Linked DNA regions of Homo sapiens: region 2 is linked to region 1. The links come from fine-mapping of genetic effects on gene expression. A gene starts in region 1. The other region holds a variant in brackets. All regions are shown on one strand. Distances are from middle to middle. Region 1 holds the start of RNF111 (ring finger protein 111). Region 2 overlaps FAM81A (family with sequence similarity 81 member A).

The links.
Region 2: its variant is fine-mapped to the expression of RNF111 in whole blood (TOPMed, PIP above 0.99).

What each region holds. Positions count from the first base shown.
Region 1 is chr15:58,981,164-58,993,953 of GRCh38, forward strand. It overlaps RNF111 (ring finger protein 111), which reads left to right and starts at 6,500. Exons shown (of 14, transcript NM_017610.8): 1 at 6,500-6,905. RefSeq lists a silencer at 7,219-7,383 and an enhancer at 9,947-10,446.
Region 2 is chr15:59,519,313-59,532,102 of GRCh38, forward strand. It overlaps FAM81A (family with sequence similarity 81 member A), which reads left to right. Exons shown (of 9, transcript NM_152450.3): 9 at 1,942-4,243. The coding sequence ends at 2,066. It also overlaps the pseudogene RPL21P114. Among named protein-coding and RNA genes, the nearest start is that of GCNT3, 86 kb to the right of the region's middle. The variant A/C (reference allele first, on the strand shown) is at 5,177.

The sequences.
Region 1 (12,790 bases):
CAATCCTGTAACTTAAAATCATAATCAAGTATTAGTTTGTGCAATTAAAACTAATACTAATGTAGTTTAGAGAAACTTTTAAATGATTTTGGAAAACTTTGCATGATCTGTAAATAATAACAAGCAAATGCATCAAAGTGTCTTTACTTCCTGTTCTGAATTTGCAACTAAGTAGCCAGTATGTAAATCACACTTGAAATTGTAATATAGCGTTCTCATAAATCTAATTAGGTCTGAAGCAAAATATGAAATGTTAGAACTTTAAGGCACTTTGGAGGTTATCCAGTCTAACTTTTCAATGATCAGAAACTTTTGTTTTTTTTGAGATAGGTCCCACTCTGTCACCCAGGCTGGAGTGCAGTGACGTGTTCATAGTTCACTGCAGCCTAAATCTCCCAGGCTCAAGTGATTCTCCTGTCTCAGCCTCCTGAGTAGCTGGGACTACAGGCACATGCCATAATGTCCTGCTAATTTTTTTGGATTTTTAGTAGAGATGGAGCCTCACTATTTTGCCCAGGCCGGTCTTGAACTCCTAGGTTCAAGTGATTGTCCCAACTTAGCCTCCCAAAGCACTTAGATTACAGATGTGAGTCCCTGCACCTGGCCAGAAACTTGTAATTGTAAAAAAGATTGCTAATAGAGGTGAGCGCATTAAAAATTCTGAATTTTAAAAGCGACATTGCAAAAGCATTTCAAGAGTTAACAACAACTTAATGAAAATGCTCACTGGTAAACCTCTGACTAACTTTAACCAAGTGTGTAAAAATATTGGTAATTAAAAGACTAAACTATTTCTGAGAATGGTTATCAGTCAGTTGGAAATCCTTGCTTGTGGTTCTAGGCTTACATTACCAATGGTGAATGGCAGCTTTCACTTTCATTTTTCTACACTTTTATCTTAAAAATATACTTTCACAGAATGAGAGAGCCTCAGACATGCCCAGAATTTGGCCTGATAACCAGAAACATATCATGATATTTGAAGTTTTGCTCATCTGCAAAATTCCAGGCATTCTGTGTCCCCTGGTTAGTCCATAATTTGTTACCTCTGTTTTTTAGAAACAGAGTCACAGAGATAGTATTAGTTATTGAGTCGTCTTCTTCTTCTTCTTCTTCTTCTTCTTCTTCTTCTTCTTCTTCTTCTTCTTCTTCCTCTTCCTCTCCTTCTCCTTCTCCTTCTCCTTCTCCTTCTTCTTCTGACAGAGTCTTGCTCTGTTCGGCATGATCTTGGCTCACTGCAACCTCCGCCTCCTGGGTTCAAGCAATTCTCCTGTTTCAGCCTCCCAAGTAGCTGGGATTACAGGCGTGTGCCCAGCTAATTTCTTTGTGTTTTTAGTAGAGACGGGGTTTCACCATGTTGGCCAGCCAAGTCTCGAACTCCCAGCCTCAGGTGATCCAACCACCTCGGCCTCCCAAAATGCTGGGATTACAGGCATGAGCCACTGCGCCTGGCCTCTTGATATTTCAAATATATCTTGAAAGTTGCCTTCCAAAGAAAATTGTAAATTTATTAGTTGATAAGTACTCATCACAAAGGTATTGTCTTTTGAGGTTATCCTTCTGCTAAATAGCTCCTCAATTTTTCAGAATCTATGATTGCATTGATTGCAAAACAGTTTAGTAGGATAAAGGGCTGTGTCTAATTACTATCTATCTGTTTCTATGTACATATAATAAAGATTATATAGTACTATATGTAGTATATGCTACATATATAATCTTTAAAAATAGTCTCTTTCCAATCACATAGCCTGAAATCATTTTTTATCTAGATACGTATTTTTTGAGGTGAAGTCTTGTTCTGTTGCCCAGGCTGGAGTGCAGTGGCACGATCTTGGCTCACTGCAACCTCCACCTCCTGGGCTCAAGCAATTGCCTGCCTCAGCCTCTTGAGTAGCTGGGATTACAGGTGCCTGCCACCATGTGCGGCTAATTTTTGTATTTTTAGTAGAGATGGGGTTTCACTATGTTGGCCAGGCTGGTCTCCAACTCTTGTCCTCAGGTGATCACCCTTTTCTGCCTCCCAAAGCGCTGGGATTACAGGGATGAGCCGCCACACCCAGCCCATATAGAAAATTTTAATGAGAACTGTGCTACCTCAACTAAATCAGCAGTTATGGAGTCTATAGCACTTTTCTTTCAGTTTTAAGTTCCAGTGATATCTTCATATGCCAAGAAGAAAATAAAATATTCTGAATCACGAAGTGTTCTGATTAGTTCATCTCTGAGATCCTTTTAATTATTTCCAAAGCTTTACATCTGAGGAAATAGTTCACTAAATACTTTCAAGAATTTCCCAAGATCTTCTAACTCTTGCATTACATCTTCAAACTTTTCTCCATTTCTTCCAAAGAGCTCACGAAGCTGACCACATAATTAGTTACTCTCACTTGCAGACTTTATACAGTTGTGAACTATGCAATGGATGATGGGCATACCAGTCTTTCCTTCTGACTTTGATAGTTTGTAGAAATTTTCTTATTACCCTTGATTGCAGGTAACTCACTAATTCAGCCCAGTATTTCCATGTTTAGACCAAACTCCTCAAATTCCTGTCAGGCAGTAGTTAGATTCTGCTGGCCCATATATGCAGACTAATTTGGTAAACATTATTTGGCTGCAGTTTGAGGAAAGCAGAATTTGGTTTGGAGTGCATTTGGAAAAACTTGATCTCTCCACAAGTGAGTAAAATTAATTTTCAGATATTTAAAGTGATTTGATTAAGGATTTCTGGTTTCTTCTGGCAAAATTGAGATTAGAATCCCAATCTTCTTATTCAGTACAGTTCAATAAATATTTGAGTGCTATTTTTCTACTTAAGAGAGAAAGACATTTTCTCTGATTTTAAGTTTTGAGACAGGTATGTATGTAAACAATCATAATACTTAGATGTATGTATAAAGCTTGAAGAGAGTACTAAAACTGGAGTAAGTCCATTTCAAGGGGTGGGGAGAGCGGTAAGGAAATGCTTCATGGAAGACGGCTTGGAGGAATGGGTAAGAATTTGTTAAGCAGATAAAGCATGGGTGGGAAATGTGGAGAAAGGGGGTGAATTTTGAGACAGAAGGAACTGTGCAAAGGCAGAGAGATGGAAAAAGAGAGACATATATCTACAAGAATATGGAGTTAAGATCGGGTGAGTCTTGAACCTTGCTGGTATTCTGAAGGGTAAGAAACAGTAGAAAAAGAGAGAGGAAAGATAATGGAAATAAAAAGATGGTCAGTTGAAGAAAGTTCTTATGTAGGCAGAGGAAATGAGATCCAAATCTCACATGGAAGAATTAGCCTTGGATAGGAGAAAGGATAGCCTTTCCACTGAAACATGTGAGAGGGAAGAAGTGAGATTGTACTAATGCAATTAGGTTTGTTAGCTTCATGGGGAAAATTGATAGTTATATAGGAATAATATATATATATATTCTTTTACATATATATTATATATTCTTATATATAACATATATTCTTTTATATATATAATATATATTATATATTCTTTTATATATATATTATATATATATATATATATTTTTTTTTTTTTTCCTGGAGAATTACAAGAAGTTTGAGAAGTCCACCGAGGTCCAGGAAGGGTCAGGGGACAGGATGGGAACTAGGGCTGGTATGAAGTGATACTGAAGAATCTGGATTTTGAAGGGCTTTATTTGTCATGCTAAGGATTTTTAACTTGAAGGTGATGGAGGATCATTGAAAGATTTAAGCAATTTAATGTCTAATCAGTTTCTGCCATACTCTAACTGTGGCTTAAGGTTGAGTTTGGGGTGGTGTGGTGACAGTGGTGGAAGCAGAAGCATAGAAATCAGAAAATTGTTATGTGTAAATTAGGTGAGAGCCGCTTCTCACCCGAATCTACCATTATTCTTCTAAATACAACTGCGTAACACCTGTCCCTTCAACCTCACTCCTCTTCTGCTCTGGGCTTTGATTTGTTGCCCTTCTGCCATTATGGTAGTGACTATTCTGATTTTTAAAATCTCTTCTAGTCACTCTCCGCCCAGCATTTTCCAAAGCTCATATGTTTATAGATGGCCCTACCTCATGTTTCATAAGGAAGTCAAGGTCATTCAGTGAACAAGCCCTCAATTTGCCCCCTGAAGCTAACATACCTAAACTGCAGTCTTCTTCCTTCTCACCTGTTTCAGTGGAAAGGCCATCCCTTCTCCTATCCAAGGCTAAATTTCCATCTGAGCTTTAAATCTCATTTCCTCTGGCTCCATAGGTATTTTTCTCCATTGCGCATCCCTTTATTTTCTTTATCTTTCCACTCCTTTTTTCTACTGACTCTTTTCCTTCAGCATCCCAACAGGGTTGAAGCCCTCACCCTTTTATTTCATCTGGGGTTTCTCAACTGCATTATTAACATTTTCGGCCAAAGAATTCTTTGTTGTGGAGAGGCCAGCATCCCTAGCCTCTATCCTAGTGGATAGATGCCAGTAGCCACGCCCCTCCTCCCTGAGTTGTAACAAACAGCAATGTCTCCGGATGTTGCTAAATCATCCCAGCTTCAGAACCACTGATTTAACCCAATATATCCAAAATATTATTTCAACATATAATAAATATTAAAAAGTACTGAGATTTTTCAGTCTTTTTTTGTATTGTACCTTTGAAATTCGATGTGTATTTTTCACTTAAAGCACTTCTCAATTATTTTTATTTATTTATTTTTTTAGGGAGACGGAAAAGGAAAAGGGGAGGGGAGAGGGAGAAGAGGAGGGAGTCTAGCCACATTTTAAGTGCTCAGCAGCCACATATGGCTGGTGTCTACCTAATTGAAGAACACAGGTCAAAAGCTTCAGAAAAAAGGTTAGAGCTGGAAATACAGGTTTGAGAAGTCATGAGATAGTAACAGTTAAAATCAAGGGAGAAGATAAGATAGTCCGGGCAAAATTCTATGTTTAAGAGTGAGAAAATAGGAGGATTGAGGAAAATCCTAGTCGAATGCTCTTTTAGTTTTCCCACACAATCTGCTATCCTTGATCATTATTGTAATTTTAAAATCATTTGTGTGTGTGTGTGTGTGTGTGTTTTGTTTGTTTGTTTGTTTGTTTGTTTTGAGACGGAATCTCACTCTGTCGCCCAGGCTGGAGTGCAGTGGCACAATCTCGCACTCACTACAACCTCTGCCTCCCGGGTCCTAGCAATTCTCCTGTGTCAGCCTCCCGAGTAGCTGGGGTTACAGGCGCCCGCCACTACGCCCGGCTAATTTTTTGTATTTTTAGTAGAGACAGCGTTTCACCGTGTTAGCCAGGATGGTCTCCATCTCCTGACCTCATGATCCGCCCGCCTTGGCCTCCAAAAGTGCTGGGATTACAGGCGTGAGCCACCGCGCCCAGCCTTTTTTTTTTTTTTCTTGGAGACGGAGTCTCCCTGTCACCCGGGCTGGGGTGCAATGGCTTGATCATGGCTCACTGCAACCTCGGCCACCCTGGCTCAAGCGATTCTCCTGCCTCAGCCTGCCGAGTAGCTGGGATTACAGGCGTCCGCCACCACGCCCAGCTAGTTTTTGTATTTTTAGTGGAGAAGGAGTTTCACCATGTTGGCCAGGCTGGTCTTGAACTCCTGATCTCAGGTAGTCCACCCGCCTAGGCCTCCCAAAGTGCTGGGATTACAGGCGTGAGCCACCGTGCCCGGCCAAAATCATTTGCTTACTGAATGATACGGAAAATATGAGTGAACAAAAAAAGTATTGAAAAAGATGAGTTGATGGCAAAGGGAGGGAATTAATGTTTAGTGAACACTTAATTGGCAAGTAATGTTCAGAGCATTATATAAATTGTCTCATTTAATCTAACAAGAACCTTTTGAGGTAAATACGTTATCCCAATTTATAGAGGAGGAAACTAAGATTTATAAGGATCTCATCAATCAGAGAACTCTTAAGTGGCACCACTGGACTTTGAAAGGAAGTCTGCCTGATGGACTCTGAAGCTCATCCTCTCTCTATCCTCCTAATGCATATAATGACGCATTTGTTATCTACTGACTTTTATAAAATAAACAAGGAGGCTTATGCGATTGTACAGCCCGAGTTCGCAGGAGATATGTGACCACTTTTGATCTGATTCCGGAAGCAAATTCACTTTAACAGTGAGGTGCCGTGATCTTTATGTCATTAGCGCATATGATATGGGTATCATTTGTTGTGAAAGACACTAACCCATGATGTTTTTGTTTACGTATATCTGTAAATGTATCAATTCTGTAGTTGGTTAATTTTTAGTTACGAAAAAATGAACCAAGATGTAGTCAAGATTTGGCTTAAATGTTGAACGCATAATCACCAAAGAAAATTAAATAATGAGCTTTGTGACACCTTTCAGTTCGCCAACAGACTGATAAAACCAGTACAAAGGGGGAGGGCCGGGACCGAGGGGGCGGGACGGTGAGAAACGGGAATCGAGCAAGCGCAGAAACAAACAGATGTTAATGGAGGCGTGAAGGCTACTGCGCTCTCACTTTCCGAACTGTCGTAAAGAGCCCTAGTGTCGTGCTCTCCTCGGTAGGGGAGGAATTGGTTAGGCGGCGGCGGCGGCGAAGCGGCGGCGGCGGCTGTAGGGGAGCAGCGGCAGTGGCGGCGACGGCGAGGAGGTGTTCGGTTTGCGCAGCGTAGAAACGCCCGCAGCTTCAGAGAAGGAGTTCTTGTGGGACCAAATTAGGCATTCTGAACCCACGCCGGCTTAGCTGGGCCGAGTCCAGGCGCTGCCGCACGTACAGTTTTGGTGGCGGTGACAGACACTGTTCTTGACTCTAGGGGCCTATTAGGCCGACGTCTGAGGCGCAGATCGCTGGCTCTCGACGCATTACTCTTTACGCCTTACATTTCTGTCTTCCTTCCTGGGTCAGTGATTCCCGGACCCTGGAAGAGAAGAGGGTGGCTAATGATTAAGGTGAGGGGAACGGGGGGGGAGGGGATCCATTGGAGGCCGCGCGTGCGCGCAACGGGGGAGGGGCCGGCCTGGAGGGGAGAAAGAGGAAGGGCTGCGGCCGCGGAAGGCTGGGGTCGGTGACCGGCCGGTTATCTCTGGCTCGGTGGTGACTTAGGGTCTGGGTCTCCGCAGACGATTTGTGTTTGGGCAAGGCATTCGTCTACCGACACACCCACAGCCTACAGTGAGGGAGTGTGGGTGAGGGGATTTCTCTCCCACTTCCGACTCTCCCTAGAGTCTCAGGATGGGGGCTGAGGACCGAGGCGTGGGAGTGCGATTTGACAATGGAGTGATGAAGGTAACCCGGACCCGGGGAGTTGGAGGGCGCTAAGTCAGCCCTGACGGCTAGGGAGTCGCCTGCTGCTGCTGTGATCAAGGAAACGTAGTCCGCGGAACAGCTGAAATACAGACGCGTCAGATTTTGTATGGAGTTGGCTTGTTGGTCATTTAAAAAGAAACTGATGTTTTTACTATTGTCCTTCGATAATTTATCAGAGTCAGTGTCAGTGCTATAGTGGGAATATCTGTTCAGTGCAGCAGAAATAGATTTGTTACAACAGTTCTTAAATAGGTTATAGTAGATAGATCTTTACAGATGGGTATTTCTCAACCTAAGTTTTGATTATTCAAAAAATACCAGAAAGTATGAGGTATTCATTTAATTTGTTCGTGTGTGTGTTGTGGGGTGACTCCATTGTGTTGTTGTAAGCTTTCCTGTTTCTTGATTTATGTGCGGCATTAATTTAGAATTCTCTTGAATGGTAAGATGCCAGCTGACATAGACTACGTTTTGTAGGATTTCCTGTAGCTTTTGAATGTGACTTAATCTAAACTTTATTTCATTTGGTATTTTATCTATAATTTTCTTGTTTTAGGGGCCTCTTGAACTAAAAAGAACAAACTGGGAAAAACATAAGCTAAGGTTCCATTTCCTTTCCCATTTTTGTTGTGTGTGTGTGTGATGGTTGTAAATGCTTGAATGTGATTTTGAGATTACCATACACAACTTCTGTAACGCTGGACTTAGCTTTATTACAGTAAAGATACATCTTTTGATAGTTTATTACTATATGTATTTTTGTAAAAATCTTCATGTCAGTATAAGCCACATTGTTTCACCCTAGTCTGGTTATATTTGTGAGGTGAAACAGATGGATAAGAAGGAAGCCCTTTTACTTTTACAATCATTTTAAATTGATTGTTTCTAAAGCCTTGATTTATCTTATTTTGGACACTTTCTTGCCATTTAACCTTGGACAAATGACTTTATCATCTCTCTCCTGCTCATTTGTTTGTGACCAAAGATTCACAACAGTATTCTAAGAATTGGTGAGGGTGTTTATAAATCTAAATAATATTTTAGGAAAAAGTAGGAAGAATGAGTCTCCTTGTTTATCACGGGTGCTATATCATGTGCAGATCCTTCTGTCACTTCTTAACTTTTGTTTGGTGTCTGTTGGCCACTTGTTTGCTAGTTATTTCACCAGACATAGAACTGGTTTTTAAAGAAAGGTATAAACAAAGTGACTTCATTTTGGTGAAAAATGCATTACAGCAGAGGTTACATCTTAACGAATTTCACTTTGGTACTCCATTTCTACAGATTATTGAGAGAGAGCTGTTGTGATGTTTAAGAGAAAAGCACCTTGCTTGTATAAAGCTAAGGTGCAGTCATTTAGCAGATACTCCTAGTTATTTTACTTTAAAATAAAAAATATAAAGGAAACTAATTGAATCAAACCATTTAGATTTTTAGATGTTTCCTTCTTTTTTTTTTTGTTATAGTTTAAAGAGAGGTTTCTGTATCATGCTTTACTTGAGGCATACTTATGTGCCCTTCTTTTGACTTTTTCTCCCCTTTTGGGCCAAGACTTCAGTAGGAAATAAAAGAGACCATCTGAAAAATGATAGCAGTTAAAATATGTTATAACTTGACATTACCGTTCTATGGGTAACGTTATCTTATGAAATAATATAGGGCTAAGGACAGGAGATCTAGATTTTAGATCTATCTTTGCTTGCTATACATTAGATCTCCGAGTTTATTGTTAACCCTCCTTGGGCTTCAGGTCTCTCTGTTTAAATGAGAATTGTAGAATAGATAACTTTCGTTTTCTTTAGGTCCCAAATTTAATGGTTTGTATATCTAGTTAGGTTTTTGGTATTCATTGTTGTGTTTGTCGTAATTGAATCCCCAGAAAGAAATGCTGTACAAAAAGCATCAATTCCCTCATGAAATGTGTATGTGTAAAACCTGTCATGAAGCTGTGGGCCAGGCGTGGTGGCTCACCCCTGTAATCCCAGCACTTTGGGAGGCCAAGGCGGGCGAATCACTTGAGGTGACCAGTCTGGCCAAAATGGTGAAACCCCATCTCTACTGAAAATACAAAAAATTAGCCGAGCTTAGTGGTGTGCGCCTGTAGTCCCAGCTGCCTGGGAAGCTGAGGCAGGAGAATGGCTTGAACCTCGGAGGCGGAGGTTGCAGTAAGCGGAGATCGTGCCACTCACTGCACTCCAGCTTGGGCGACAGAGCGAGACTGTTTCTCAAAACAAACAAACAAAAAAACTATGATTGTTGTTCCACATATTATTGCTATTGTTGTCCCATTGTAGATATTAATTACTGAAGCTTTAATAGCTTTCAGATGGTACTAAAAATGAAATTTTTTATTACTCCTGGTAACATTTTAAAAATCATCTGGAATAATTTGTTTTTCTTTCAGAAACCTGTAATTATTGTTCAGTAAAAGTCCACAATTACATTTGAATGTCTTATACCTCTGTTTGTTTCTTTCCTACATCCTACAGATTCTTGGTAACAGCTGGCCCAGGTTTCTACAGGTACTCAATTTATATCATTACATGAGGAGTGAATTACAAATATTTAAAGACAAATACTTAGCTGAGGCTGGGTGCGCTTGCTCATACCTGTAATCCCAGCACTTTGGGAAGCCGAGGCGGGTAGATCATGAGGTCGGGTTCGAGAGCAGCCAGGCCAACATGGTGAAACCCCGTCTGTACTAAAAAAAAAATACAAAAATTAGCTGGGCATGGTGGTGGCATGCGCCTGTAATCCTGGCTGCTCAAGAGGGTAAGGCAGAATTGCTTGAACCCGGGAGGTGGAGGTTCCACTGAGCTGAGATCTGCACTCCAGCCTGGGTGACAGAGCAAGACTCCATCTTGAAAAAAAACAAAACAACAAAAAAGCCTCCAAATACTTAGCTGAGCTTACATTTTAAAGAGCGGTACTGCATTATTACGTAGATACATTTATTGAATGTCTCATGTTCTAGGCACAGTCACTGGTCTTCAGTGAAGGCACTCTGCCTTCATGGAGCTGACATTCTGTTCTGTGTGTGGGAACATAATAAACAGAATGGTTTCAGGTAGTGGTAAGTGCCATGAGGAAAATAGGACCATGTGATACGGCATGGATGGAAGTGGTTTTACTGTAGATTGAGTGGTTAGGGAGGGCCTTTTTAGAGGTGGTAATTTGACCTGTGACTTCAATGACTAGAAAAAATCAGCCATAGTGACGATTTGGAGGAAGACTGCTACAGATAGCAGGGGCGGCAAATGCATTAGGTGAGGTTTGATTCTAGAGAATCTACAAATGTAAATTAATTATTTGGTTTGTCTGTTAAGCTTTTCATATTTGCTGTCAGATGATGTAGACAGATTAAAATTATTTTATGTGTAGTAACCAAATACAATATGTTGGTGTTGTTTAAACCCTGACTCAAACCAATTGTAGAAAGTCATTTTTGAAACATTGGGGGAAATCTGAATATGGATGGGTATTAGATGATATCAAGGAGTTATTGTAACTTTGTTAGGGATGATAATGGCATTATGTTTATGTAAGAAAATGACCACTTTTTATTAGTGATAGAGACTGAGGAATGAGGGAGAAAACTTGCAAATGTCTGGTATTTTATTTTATTTTATTTTATTTTGAGATGGAGTTTCCCTCGTTGCCCAAGCTGGAGTGCAGTGGTGTGATCTCAGCTCACTGAAGCCTCCACCTCCCGGGTTCAAGCAATTCTTCTGCGTCAGTCTCCTGAGTAGCTGGGATTACAGGAGCGCGCCACCACGCCTGCTAACTTTTTGTATTTTTAGTAGAAACGGTTTTTCACCATGTTAGCCAGGCTGGTCTTGAACTCGTGATCTCAGGTGATTCGCCCGTCTCGGCCTCCCAAAGTGCTGGGATTACAGACGTGGGCCACCGTGCCCAGCAATGTCTGTTATTTTAAACAGATACCAGATAAAAACCAAAAAATGTGGTGGAGGGAGATAAGATAGATGAAGCAGGTCTGGCACAATCTGGATAATTGTTGGGTTGGGGTGATGGGTACATGGGTATTAATAATATTGTTCTCTGCTTTTGTGAGGTTTGAAAATTGTTCATATTTTAAAATATATTTTTTTGGCTGGGCCCAGTGGCTCATGCCTGTAATCATAGCACCTTGGGAGGCTGAGGAAGGTGGATTGCTTGAGCCCAGGAGTTTGAGACTAGGCTGGGCAATGTGACGAAATTCTGGCTGTACCAAAAAAATACAAAAATTAGACAGGCATAATGGCACATGCCTGTAGTCCCAGCTACTCGGGAGGCTGAGGTGAGAGGATGGCTTGAGCCCGGGAGGCAGAGGTTGCAATGAGCCGAGATTGTGCCACTGCATTCCAGCCTCGGTGACAAAGCCAGACCCTATCTCAAAATAAATAAGTAAATGAAATAAAATAAAATAATATATTTTTGAAAACGTTCATTCATGTTTAGGCTGGACATGGTGGTGCACACCTGTAGTAATCCTAGCACTTTGGGAGGCTGAGGCAGGCGGATCACCTGAGGTCAGGAGTTTGAGACCAGCCTGCCCAACGTGGCAAAACCCTGTCTCTACTAAAAAATACAAAAAGTAGCCGGGCATGGTGGCGGGTGCTTGTAATCCCAGCTACTTGGGAGGTTGAGGCAGGAGAATGACTTGAACCCAGGAGGCAGAGGTTGCAGTGAGCCAAGATTGCGCCACTGCCCTTCAGTCTGGGTGACAGAGCAAGATTCCATCTCAAAAAAAAGAAAATGTTCAATTGTAAATAAAAATGTTTTAAAATAATTAGTAAAAGTGGCCAGGTATAGTGGCTCACACCTGTAATCCCAGAACTTTGGGAGGCCAAGGCGAGTGGATCACCTGACATCAGGAGTTCGAGACCAGCCTGGCCAACATGGTGAAACCTTGTCTCTACTAAAAACACAAAAATAAAAAAAATATAACTGTAAATACAAAAATTAGCTGGGCGTGGTGGTGGGTGCCTGTAATCCCAGCTGCTTGGGAGGCTGAGACAGGAGAATTGCTTGAACCCAGGAGGTGGAGGTTGCAGTGAGCTGAGATTGCACCACTGCACTCCAACCTGAGTAACAGAGTGAGACTCCATCTCAAAATTTGTGAAAGTACCATATTTAAGTGTCTGTTCCCTTCCACGCTTCTTTTCATTTTGATAAAAATACAGTATTTCGTTTCTATTTGTAAATGTTCAGTATTTATTCAACAAACAGGAGTGTTGTATTTCAGGCACTGTGCCAGTGCTTGAGTTAAAACAAAGGGCAGGCTCTTAACACCTGCCTGAAGGGGCTTATGGCTTGCTGGTGGAAAGGAGAGTTTGGCAGTGTGGATTGTGTTAACATGGAGAAGATTTTTGTGTTTTCCTGAGGGCATACACGATTAGCATCTTAGTTTAGTTTGTATGTGATTGGATTCTTAAAAAATATTTTTCCTTTTCTACCAAATAGAAAATTTAAGAAATTCTATATATGGCTAGGTGTCAAGTCTGAATCAATGTTGTAGTCATTTCCC
Region 2 (12,790 bases), 540 kb after region 1:
CGGGTAGCTGGGATTGTAGATGTGCACCACCAGGCCCAGCTAATTTTTGTATTTTTAGTAGAGATGGAGTTTCATGGTGTTGGCCAGGCTGGTCTCAAACTACTGACCTCAAGTAATCCACCCGCCTCGGCCTGCCTTCCTCCCTCCCTCCCTCCCTCCTTTCCTTCCTTCCTTCCTTCCTCCCTCCTTCTCTCTTTCTCTCTTTCTTTCCTTTCTTTCTCTTTCTTTTCTTTCTTCCTTTCTTTCCTTTCCCTTCCCTTCCCTTCCCTTCCTTTCCCTTCCCCTCCCCTCCCCTTCCCTTCTTCCTTCCTTTTCTTTTTTTAGATTCCACATATGAGATCGTGCAGTATTTTTCTTTCTGTATCTGTCTTATTTCACTTAGCATAATGTCCTCCATTTTTATCCATTTGTGACAAATGGCAGGCTCTCCTTTTTTGTAAAGCTGAATAATATTCATCATTTGTATATATACACAATTTCTTTATTCACTAATTTTTTGATGGACACACTTCAGTTGTTTCCATATCTTGGCTATTGTAAATAATGGTGCAGTGAACAGGGGAGTGCAGATATCTTTATGAGGCAGTAATTTAATTTCTTTTGGGAATATACCCAGTAGTGAGATTGCTGGGTCGTATGGTAGTTCTATTTTAAATTTCTTTAGTAACCTCTATACCAAGCTTGTCCAACCCACATCCCGCAGGCCACATGCGACCCAGGATGGCTTTGAATGCAGCCTAACCCAAATTCGTAAACTTTCTTAAAACATTATGAGATTTTTTTGTGATTTTTTTTTTTAAATCACTCATCAGCTATCATTAGTGTTAGTGTATTTGTATTGCCCAAGACAATTCTTTCAGTGTGGCCCAAGGAAGCTGAAAGTTTGGATACCCCTGCCCTATACTGTTTTCCACTATGGCTGCCCCATCCTGCATTCCCACCAACAGTGTACAAGTGTTCCCCTTTCTTCACACCCTCGCTAATGCTTGTACTCGTTTGTCTTTTTGATAATAGCCATCCTAACAGGTGTGAGGTGATAACTCATTGTGGTTTTAATTTGTATTTTTCCTATAATTAGTGATGTTGGCCCTTCAGGTTCTAATCCAGAATTACACATCGTATTTAGTTGTCATGTTTCTTTATTTAGTCTCTATTAATCTGGATCAGTTTCTCAGTGATGTTGACCTTTTTAAAGAATACCAGCCAGCCAGCATTTTGTAGACTATCCCTAGTTTAGATTTGTTTGCTTCATTTTTTTTTTTTTTTTTTTGAGACGAGTCTTGCTCTGTCGCCGAGGCTGGAGTGCAGTAGCACAATCTCAGCTCACTGCAACGTCCGCTTCCTGGGTTCAAGCAATTCTCCCTGCCTCAGCCTCCCGAGTAGCTGGGACTACAGGTGTGCGCCACCATACCCAGCTAATTTTTGTATTTTTAGTAGAGACAGGGTTTCGCCGTGTTGGCCAGGCTGGCTCGAACTCCTGACCTCAGGTGATCCATCCGCCTTGGCCTCCCAAAGTGCTGGGATTACTGGCATGAGCCACCGTACCAGGCCTGTTTGCTTCATCTTGATATAATTTAGGTTGTGTATTTTGGTATTCTTTAAAAATGTCAAGAAGTGATGTTGTGCCCTGCTCAGGGTATCTTTTCAGAAGTTACGTGATGTTGTTTCTCCCAGTATGGGTGACGTGAGATTTGATCACTTGGTTAAAGGGGTATATGACAGTCTTCTCCATTGTAATAGTTCCTTTTTCCTTTTTGTAATTAAAAAGTAATCTCTAGGGAGAAACTAGAAACTCACCTGTTCCCCATCATACTTTCATCCCAGAGGTTTTAGCATCTATTAATAATTTTTGCCTGAATCAACCATTACTAGATACTATAGAATTTGATACAGCATTTTAAAAAAATTGTTAACTGTTGTGAAATTTACCTCTCCTTCAAGGGTTTACAGCCGTCTATGAAAGCATAGGATCCCTCAGGCAAGTTCTCGAGGCCAAGATGAAGCTGGACAGGGACCAGCTACAGAAGCAAATCCAGCTGATGCAGAAGCCAGAGACCCCCATGTGAAGGGAGCTGGGACAAGGTCCTAAAAGACAGTTTTGCCAGTGGGGCTAGGAGCCGGATACCTCTGTAGCCAGGCCATCGCTGCATTCAGGATTGTTCCATCCATGGCGTGCATGTGCCAAGAAATGTGTTTTTATGGGTCTAAATGTTTACCTTGAGTCTTGAAAATACTCTTTTGTTAAAAGTATGAAATACAGTTTTTACCAGTTTATTTCACTTCTCTAAATTCAATGGAAATCCCCCGCCCTGGATTTTGAAAGGCTTTTATCTTCTTCATTTTACGAATGGAAAGACGACAATTTTTCTTCAATGCTTGATGCACTAATGAAGACTGTTTACTATTTTGAAAAATGTCATGGGGATTTTTTTTTAATTAAGAAACTAATGAATCATCACAGGAATGTGTTGCTCCTCACCCTAAATTAAGAGAATGTCCCAGTAGATTAGACTTCAACCTTTGAGTCCAATTTGGATTTTATTATCGTTGTCTATGCACTTCTTATATTGGTTATCTTCTTGTAAATCTTCTGTCTTTTGTAAGGGGAAAGGATTTAACATTTAGAATAAACCCCACCATTTATGTAATGGAAATAGTTTAAAAATTGCTAACTGCCATGTGGATTGCAAATTAAATGGAAACTTATTTAGATAACGTAAGGCTCAATATCTGCGTTGACCACCTAGATATTACAGGTTTTAATATTTAAAACTATTTTTGAATTATCCACAACCTGTATAGTGATAGCCATATATTTAATAATGGAATGGTGGTTAACAGTCTATTTACTGCACAATTAATTGTTCACTAATCAAATAGAATGTGGTAATTTTTCAGACTTTATGATCTGTTTCCAAAATTGGCACAAAGTGCTAGGGTTTATATACACTTATCGTAACTGTATTTTTGTGCCTTGGTTTTATCATGTCAATGCACTGTACTCTGTAAAAGTTTTGCAGACAAAATAGAAAGTATGATAATCCGTCAGAAGTATGATGTAAAACTGGAATCCTCTGTATTTTTTAAATGTTCTAAAAATTTTATCGCTGTTAAGGTATTAATCATTCAGTATTACTAATGGAATAGAAATTCATACTTTTGTATGGACAACAATTCAAATTGATATTGCATTTATAGCACTGTAAGAAACTTTCATCTTGAGCAACTTTGTAGATGATGGGTGTTTTATTTTCAATCGCCATATTTGATCAGTCATTGAAAATTGGCCCCAGTGCTGTTTGTTCATCTCTGTATGTAAAAACTGACAGTGAGACACAACGTTCTGAACTGTGAGGGTGTCCCAGGAAAAAGAAAAACAGGAATACTTTAACAATTAAAAAGAAAAAAATGTTTTTTGTTTGCCAAGGACTCAGGAAAATAAAAAGCATTTTCTATTTTTAGGACAAATCACAAATGAAGTGTCTAACTGGCTATTACTGTTTACCCATATAAAATATGCTGCTAAAGTACATATTTTGCTGTCAATGGCTTGACAATTTTTTTTTTCAAATTTGGACATGAGAGGTTATATAGGGACTATATTATCCAACACATATTTTCTTATTTTGCCACAAATTTCCACTTAACAAATAAAAAAAGGCGAATGCTGTTTTGCAATCAGAAAGTGAATTTCTTTTGTGGTAGCGTACACGTGGTTCATGTGGTTCTCCACGTTTAAGCACAAACCACAGCACAGGAAGCCACACCCCCTCCAGCATCTCTGTCTTGTGGGGTCTTTGAGGAGAAGGAATCAGAACATCGACACCTGGGAAGAGGGAGGCGGGGAACACCAGCTGGACTCTGGCCAAGGAGTGATGTAAGCAGGTGACACTTGGCTGTCAGCTGAGCTTCTCAGGTGCTTCTGACATTGCCAGCCCCTTGAGATGAGCCACCGCAGGTGTGCTCACCTTGGCTACATGTTGAAATCATCCAGAGGAGTTGGGAAATCTACTGATGCCCCGCTGTGCCTCCCAGACCGATTAAGTCAGAACCTCTGGGAGGTGGGTCGCAGGCATCAGTGCGTGCCCGAGGCCTCCGCGTGTTTGGGTGTGCAGCCGAGGTGGTGAGCTGTCGAGCCACAGTGCAGTTCTCTTCTCACCAAAGCTCAAATGAGAATCAGCTTCCATGTTCTTTCCTTTACCAGAAATTTGCAATAAAAAGAAAAATAAAATTTTCACATAAATGTGGTGTATGATTTTTAAATTGAAAAGTCTTTCAGTGTTGAGCTGAAGACTTAATTAGGTAAAATGCCATAGGAAATATTTCTGTTTGCTCTCTGTGGAAACGCTTTGATGGTTGAAATAAAGTGCTCAAGTCCTGGCAGCTCCTCTGACGACTGGAATGTCATTGGGAGCTGCTGGTCTGTGGGCTTCGGGGCTGTAGGGCCTTCTCTGCAGCCTTCTTGTCTCTTGGCAGTTCTCGGGTGTGTGCTGTGTGCCTGTGCTGTGTCCCCTGTGTATGTCAACTCTTTTCATTTTAACTAGTTGAGTTCAATACCATTTCCCCATTTTACAGATGAGAAAACAGAGTCACCTAAAGGTTAAGCAACTTGCCCCAAGTCCTATAGCTGATAAATGGGAGCCATGATTCAAGCCAGGCCGCCTACTTCCGCACTCTGGGAGCCTTACCAGCATACCACACTACCTCCGAAGACATTTTGGCTTCCCACATAAGTGACTTGCTAGGCCACTGACATCAGCCATATCTATATGAGCTTGGCCTCCTGCCATCTGACTACCCTCGCTTTTTAATGCCCCGATTCCAAATACGTAATGAGGCAATCTAATTAGCTTGTCAAACGTCTTCCCCTGGCTGTATCAATGTGGAGGCACCAGAGGTGGGGGGCAGTTGGTGCCACAGGACTTGTAGGATCACAGGCATTTCATCCCCTGCACTTGGGCTGTCCTAGGTCGTGGTCCCTGGCTGGCTCTGCACATCGGGAGATGGATTGTGTAGGGGAGTGTAGAGCAGAACAGAGAAGATGGCTCCGTTCAAGTTGTAATTATCCCACTAGGCTTTCAGGGGGAAAAAGAATCACAAAGCACTGTGACATCAGTCCCTTGCTCTGCCACACAGCCCTCCTGACAGGTTGTTTACAACACAGCAGCTTGCTTCC[A/C]CCAGTACCAGTGAGAGAGAGGGTGAACGGGAAGGAAGCTAGTCTTTTGTAACCTAATCTCAGAAGTGACAAGCCACCACTTCCACTAGTCTCTTCATGAAAAGCAAGTCCAGCACACACACAGCGGGAGGGGATCACACAAGGGGCTGAACACCTGGGGATGGGGTCACTGGGGGACATTTTACCGACTTCCTGCTCCAGCCGGAATCTGGACTCTGAGTCTCAGTCAGGTGGGCCTGCAGTGCAGTGTCTACTCTATAAAAGGATACTGCTGAGGTCCTTTAGCTCTGGATTTATAGGGACGACAAAATAACTTTTTGAGATGAACTGAACCAAAAATGGCCCAAGATGAATTGACAATTTCCAATAGACATGTGAGGGAGCTTAGAAGTGGAGCTCCCTACCCAAAAGAAATGAAAGTGGGGAATCGGGTATGTGTACATGTGGGCATGGTGGCTTACGCCTGTAATCCCAACACTTTGGGAGGCTGAGGTGGGCGGATCACCTGAGGTCAGGAGTTCAAGACCAGCCTGGCCAACATGGTGAAACCCCCATCTCTACAAAAAACACAAAAATTAGCCGGGCGTGGTGGCACATGTCTGTAATCCCAGCTACTCGGGAGGCTGAGGCAGGAGAATTGCCTGAACCTGGGAGGCAGAGGTTGCAGTGAGCCGAGATCACGCCACTGCACTCCAGCCTGGGCAGCAGAGTGAGAGTCTGTCTCAAAAAAAAAAAGAAAAGAAGTGAAAACTCTCAGGCTCCACCAAGACCTACTGAATCAGAGGCTCTGAGACGGACGCACCAAATTGCTTCAAGTCCTGCAGGTGATTGTAATGTAAAATCTGAGGCTTGCTGCACTAATAAGTAGCCACTAATTACATGGATTTTTTTTTAACAGTCAAGAGGTCCTTAATTTTTTGGCACCTATTGTGCCATAAATTCATAGGGAACAGGTTCCAGCAGCTCAGGCCCTCTTCTGTTGGTTCACTAAGTGTGCTTCTCTGCGTAGAGCAGGCTGGTGCTTCAGCGGAACCCAGGTACGTTTCTCTTTGGGTTCCTTCGTTTTCTGATCGTTTTCCTTCCGCGTTTAGGAAACTATCTTGGCTCTTTAAGTACTTCATATGCTCAACATATACAGTAATTCTCTTGGCTAGAATATTGTTTGTTTACAGAAATGCCAATAGCATGCTGGGTAGCACTGTAGACTTCCAGCTTTGCCATGGTAACATTTGTGAGGTATTCCTTTTTGAACAGTACCCATTCCCTTGATGTCTACAACATCTCCCTTCTTGTAGATTCACGTGTGTGTGTCCAAAGGAACAACTCCATGCATTCTAAAAGGCCCAGGGAACAGAGAGCAGGTGCTTCTCCTCATTCCCTTTTTTTTCATCATTTAGGCAAATGATTAGAAGATGGTGGTTCCAGCCAAAAGAAAATATGTGGTCATTGGCCGGGCACAGTGGCTCAGGCCTGTAATCCCAGCACTTTGGGAGGCCGAGGCAGGCGGATCACGAAGTCAGGAGATCGAGACCATCCTGGCTAACACGGTGAAACCCCATCTCTACTAAAAATACAAAAAATTAGCCGGGTGTGGTTGCGGGCGCCTGTAGTCCCAGCTGCTCGGGAGGCTGAGGCAGGAGAATGGCGTGAACCCAGGAGGCGGAAGTTGCAGTGAGCCGAGATTGTGCCATTGCACTCCAGCCTGGGCGACAGAGCGAAACTCCATCTCAAAAAAAAAAAAAAAAAAAAGGAAAAAAAAAAGAAAATATGTGGTCATTTAAATCAATTAAATGTAAATATAAATTCATCAGAATTAGATATGTCTTAACATTTAGTTTCTTAGTTGCACTAGCCACATTTCAAGCGCTCAGTAGCCTCCCATGGTTGGTGCCTACTGTATTGCCTGTGCGAATGTGGAAGAGTTCTGTAACTGCAGAAATTTCTACTGGATGGTCCTCAAAGTGTCCGCAGACCAGCAGCATCTAGAGCAATAGTTACCTCACTCTTTCAACGTACAGCCTGATATAGTTTGGCTGTGTCCCCACCCAAATCTCATCTTGAATTGTAGCTCCCATCATTCCCATGTGTCTTGGGAGGGACCTGGTGGGAGGTAATTGAATCATGGGGGCCGGTTTTTCCCCTGTTGTTCTCGTGATAGGGAATAAGGCTCATGAGATCTGATGGTTTTATAAAGGGGAGTTCCCCTGCACACACACTCTTGGCTGATGCCATGTAAGACGTGACTTTGCTCCTCATGCGCCTTACGCCATGACTGTGAGGCCTCCCCAGCCATGTGGAACTGTGAGTCCATTAAACCTCTTTCCTTTATAAATTACCCAGTCTCAGGTATGTATTTATTAGCAGCATGAGAACAGACTAATACACAGCCCTATCTACAGCTCTGCACCATCATCTGTCAGCCTAAAATGAGCTTTGGAGCTGGAAATCCTCTCCAGTCTCATTCCTACAATATTATGTCAGTTGTCCCTGTTAGAATAATTTCCTAGGTCTTTATTTTTAAGATTTTATCTTTAAGCAAGATGAATAAACTCTAGAGATCTGGCCAGACATGGTGGCCCAAGCCTGTAATCCCAGCACTTTGGGAGGCCAAGTCAGGTAGATCACCTGAGGTCAGGAGTTTGAGACCAGCCTGGCCAACATGGTGAAACTCTGTCTCTACTAAAAATAAAAAAATTAGCCAGGCGTGGTGGCATGCACCTGTAATCCCAGCTACTCGGGAGGCTGAGGCAGGAGAATCACTTTAACCTGGGAGGCAGAGGTTGCAGTGAGCTGAGATCATGCCATTGCACTCCAGCCTGAGCGACAGAGCAAGACTCCATCTCAAAAAAACAAAACAAAACAAAACAAAACAAAACACAACTCTAGAGATCTGCCGTATAACATTGCACCTATAGTCAACAGCCATGTGTTATACACTTAAAACTTCGTTAAGAGGGTAGATCTCATGTTACATGTCCTTACCACAATAAATTTTTTAAAAAAGATTTTTATCTCATCTGTCAGTTCTGATCAGTAGATAGAGGTGCCTGGAGCACTGTGTTGGGAAGGATTTGGTGGCTGGCACCGGATGCAGGGGGAAGAGCCAGCCCAAGGCCGATGGGGTGGTGTCTTGTGAACTGTGGGTCTGCCAGGCTTGCCCTAGGGCATCCTGGGCATGTGGGATGCCTGGCAAGGGCTTGTTGGCCAGGGGAGTCCAGGGATTCTGATGCTCCCTAGTGAGGGGCCCCTCGCAGGTCTGGGATGAAGGTGAGTCACAGTGAGGCATTCACCTTGATAAATTTAGAGGGGCACCAAATACTCTAAGATTACAATATTTTAATGTAATATTTTAAAAGATCACCATTAATACTAAAAAATTCCAGATGAACAGGGCCAGGCGCGGTGGCTCACACCTGTAATCCTAGCACTTTGGGAGGCCAAGGCGGGCGGATCACGAGGTCAGGAGGTCAAGACCATCTGGCTAACACGGTGAAACCCCATCTCTACTAAAAAATACAAAAAATTAGCCGGGCGTGGTGGTGGGCGCCTGTAGTCCCAGCTACTCGGGAGGCTGAGGCAGGAGAATGATGCGAACCCGGGAGGCGGAGCTTGCAGTGAGCTGAGATCGTGCCACTGCACTCCAGCCTGGGCAACAGAGCGAGACTCTGTCTAAAAAAAAAAAAATTCCAGGTGAACAAAATATCAAATCTTAACTAAAGACCAGATCTGACTGTGCTATGTGGTGTCATTTTGGAATTGAGGCAAAAGACAAAGTATTTCTCTCTATATACATGTTTTTATGCAAAAATTGGACATATTTTTTGTGAGGGTTTTTTAATTTTGATTTTTAGAAATATTACATTAAAATATGATTTACTTGGTTATTGAGGTTTTGGTCTTCCCCTCTCCTTATCACTTTTTTTTTTTTTTTTTTTTAAAACAGGGTCTCCCTCTGTCACCCAGGCTGGAAGCTGTGGTGTGATCATAGCTCATAGCTCATTACAGCCTCAGTCTCCTGAGTAGCTAGGATTACAGGTGTGCACCACCATGCCTGGCTAATTAAAATTAAAAAAAAAATTTGTAGATATGGGGTCTTACTATGTTGCCCAGGCAGGTCTTAACTCCTGGCCTCCAGGAATCCTCCCAACTCAGCCTCCCAAAATGCTGGGATTACTGGTGTGAGCCACCACACCCGGCCTCTCCTTACCTTTTGCATTTGAGGCTGCTTTACCCTAATCCTGACCCTGCCCTGATATCTAGAAATTTGGAGCTAAATTCAGTGCTTAGTTTTTATAATTAGCTTATCTTGGGGGTATCTGATTGCTTTAGATGGTCTCTGGTCTGTTTTTATTTCTAATTACCATGCTTTGTTTAATTTTCAAACTTGTAGTTTAATTATTCTTTAAACCGACTTGGGCCACAGGTAAAGCAATGATCTGACTCTGAGCAGGTGTGACTCCTCTGAGACATGGAGGAAGAGAGGGCGGGGAGCGAAGATGTTTGCAGATTTCCAGCACTTAACTGCCAGCCGCCAGAGAAGTGCGAGGAGCTCTCCACAGCACTACCAGGCCCGCCCATGGGATTCACTGTCCTTTGCTGCCCCCACCTGGAGAGAATGAAAACTCCTAGGGAATCTGTTTCACTAGGGAGAACCCAGAACCAAGGAATGCCTCGGGAAAAGAGCCCTTGGAGATCATGAAACCGCTAGTGCAAAATTATAGCTGAGACAGCAAAAAAGATCTGACCTAGCCAACTCCATCTTGCTTCTAAGCTCCAAGCTGTCTTTGTTCATTCCTGGGCATAGGCTGAACTAAGTTTGGGAGGAACTTAGTTTCTTAAAACAAGGTGATTAACAGCCCTTTCCCAAAACAAACCGCCTTCTTGCCTGTATTTAATGATAAAATACAAGTTAAAGAAGATTTTTTTTTTTTTTTGAGACGGAGTCTCACTCTGTCACCCAGGCTGGAGTGCAGTAGTGCAATCTCGGCTCACTGTAGTCTCCACCTCCCAGGTTTCAGCCATTCTCCTGTCTCACCCTCCCCAATAGCCGGGACTACAGGCATGAGCCACCACTCCTAGCTAATTTTTGCATTTTTAGCAGAGAGGGAGTTTTGCCATGTTGGCCAGGCTGGTCTGGAACTCCTGACCTCAAGTGATCTGCCTGCCTTAGCCTCTCAAAGTGCTGGGAATGCGGGTGTAAGCTACTGTGCCCGGCCAAAGATATATTTTTAAGCAAAAATTGTTTAAAGCTGATTTTAATGTTTAAAATGTACCTACATCTTGGCCTGGTGCTGTGGCTGACACCTGTAATCCCAGCACTTTGGGAGGCTAAGGCAAGCAGATCACTTGAACTCAGGAGTTCAATACCAGCCTGTGCAACAAGGTGAGATTTAGTCTTAGCTACTCTGGGGACTCAGGTGGGAGGCTCACTGAGCCCAGGAGGTCGAGGCTGCAGTAAGCTGAGACTACCCCAATGCACTCCAGCGTGGGTGGCAAAGTGAGACCTAGTTTCAAAAAATAAATAAATAAAAATAAAAGTTTACCTACATCTTATTAAATATGGTTTGTTTTTGGGTTTTTTTTGTTGTTGTTGCTTTTTGTTTGCTTGTTTGTTTGTTTTTTGAGATGGAGTCTTGCTCTGTTGCCAGGCTGGAGTGCAGTGGTGTGATCTCGGCTCACTGCAATCTCTGACTCCCTGGTTCAAGCTATTCTCCTGCCTCAGCCTCCTGAGTAGCTGGGATTACAGGCATGTGCCAGTACGCCCAGATAATTTTTGTATTTTTAGTAGAGACAGGGTTTCACTATGTTGGCTAGGATGATCTTGATCTCCTGATCTTGTGATTTGCCAGCCTCGGCCTCCCAAAGTGCTGGGATTACAGGCGTAAGCCACCACGCCTGGCCATCTTATTATTATTATTTTGAGACTGAGTCTCTCTCTGTCACCTAGGCTGGAGTGCAGTGGCGCGACCTCGGCTCTCTGCAACCTCCGCCTCCCGGGTTCAAGCGATTCTCCTGCCTCAGCCTCCTGAGTAGCTGGGATTACAGGTGAGTGCCACCATGCCCGGCTAATTTTTGTATTTTTAGTAGAGACAGGGTTTCACCATGTTGGTCAGGTTGGTCTCAAACTCCTGACCTCGTGATCCCCCCACCTCGGCCTCCCAAAGTGCTGGGATTACAGGCGTGAGCCACCACACCTGGCCATCTTATTAAATATTTTTTATAAAAATAAGCCTATTTATGATTCAGGCATTCAATGTCCATCTAGTTGCCAATGTGTTGTCCTTTCAGCCACGTGGCTAATAGGGGCTTCCTGCTCTTATAATCTCTGGATGACTCATTATCTCCTGGTTGGCTTCTCAGTTTCCATAATGTGGGTGACCAATTCCCTTTATTAAATTATCTGTGTTTGGAATACCTAGGGAGGATTCTGTTTTCTTGAATGGACCCTAACTGACGTAATGCTTAAGGAGAGTAATTTGCTTCTGTAGCTATCACACTGTTTCTCCATAGCACCTATCTGCTTTTCCTTTGGTGCTGTGTGGCTCTCGTGTTCTAATAAACCAATACCCTCTAGGGCTAGCTAAGGCTTTTTGAGTACCCGACATTGTGCTAGGTGCTCATCCCTGTGTCCGCGAACAAGTCCTGGACAGAGCAGACCCTTGTCCTTGCCACAGGCACCTGCTGGTCCATCACTTCCTCTGGCCTCACCCAGGAACCCTCTGGCCTAGAGTTTACCTGTCTAGCAGCTGCTGTGCTGCTGCCCAAACCATGTTGGGCGGGACCAAATGCCGGGTGTCTTTAGTAAGTCTTCACCTTCCCTCTTCCTCCTACAAGGTTCTCAGCTACCTCCAGCCTACCTGGGCATTTTTACCAGTTTGTCCACTGCAGAGTTTCACCTCAAGAGGAAGAAAAGGGAGAACACGTTTGTCAACGTTCCTTTCTCCTCCCCACACTCCACTTGTGTGAAAAAGAGAACCGGCTTTCTATTTCTGCTTCCTCTCTAGGGTGGCCTTCTCGCTGTCATTTCTTCCTTTCTAGGGGGATGAGGGAGCCTTAAGTCCCTTAATGGTAGCAGGAGTATTCCTTCTGCATCATGGAAGTGAGTTTGTCATCTGACTTAGGCTTAGAGTTAGTGACTCTGACACAGTTCTAGGAGCCAAAGGAACTTAGAAAATTCTTTCATGACAAAGCCTGGCTTTTAAGACTATCGTCTTTCTGTGCTTTCCAGGTATCTATTCTGAATTTCAAAACTGAATATGGACTGCGTCCTCTTTGAGTTCCTGTTGTAACAGTCCTAGTTCCCTCTTGGGCAAATGGATGCCTCTGCAGAAGACGGGGCAAGTCAGGGGGAGGACAAGGAAATGCAAGGGACACCAGCAAATTAGTAAATTTCAAAACTATTGTTTCCATTAACTACACATGGGTGTCTTCTCCCTAAACTGTGATCTACTTGAAGGCAGGATTACATTTTCCCCAATATTTAAAAAAATATCTATGAGAAGTCAGGTGCTAATCGTGAAAGCACTTGCAGGTTAACTAAGGTCTCAGGTGTCCTTATGTTGTCTCATATTATGACAGCTCTTTATAGTGCGTCCCACACCCATTAGATCACTT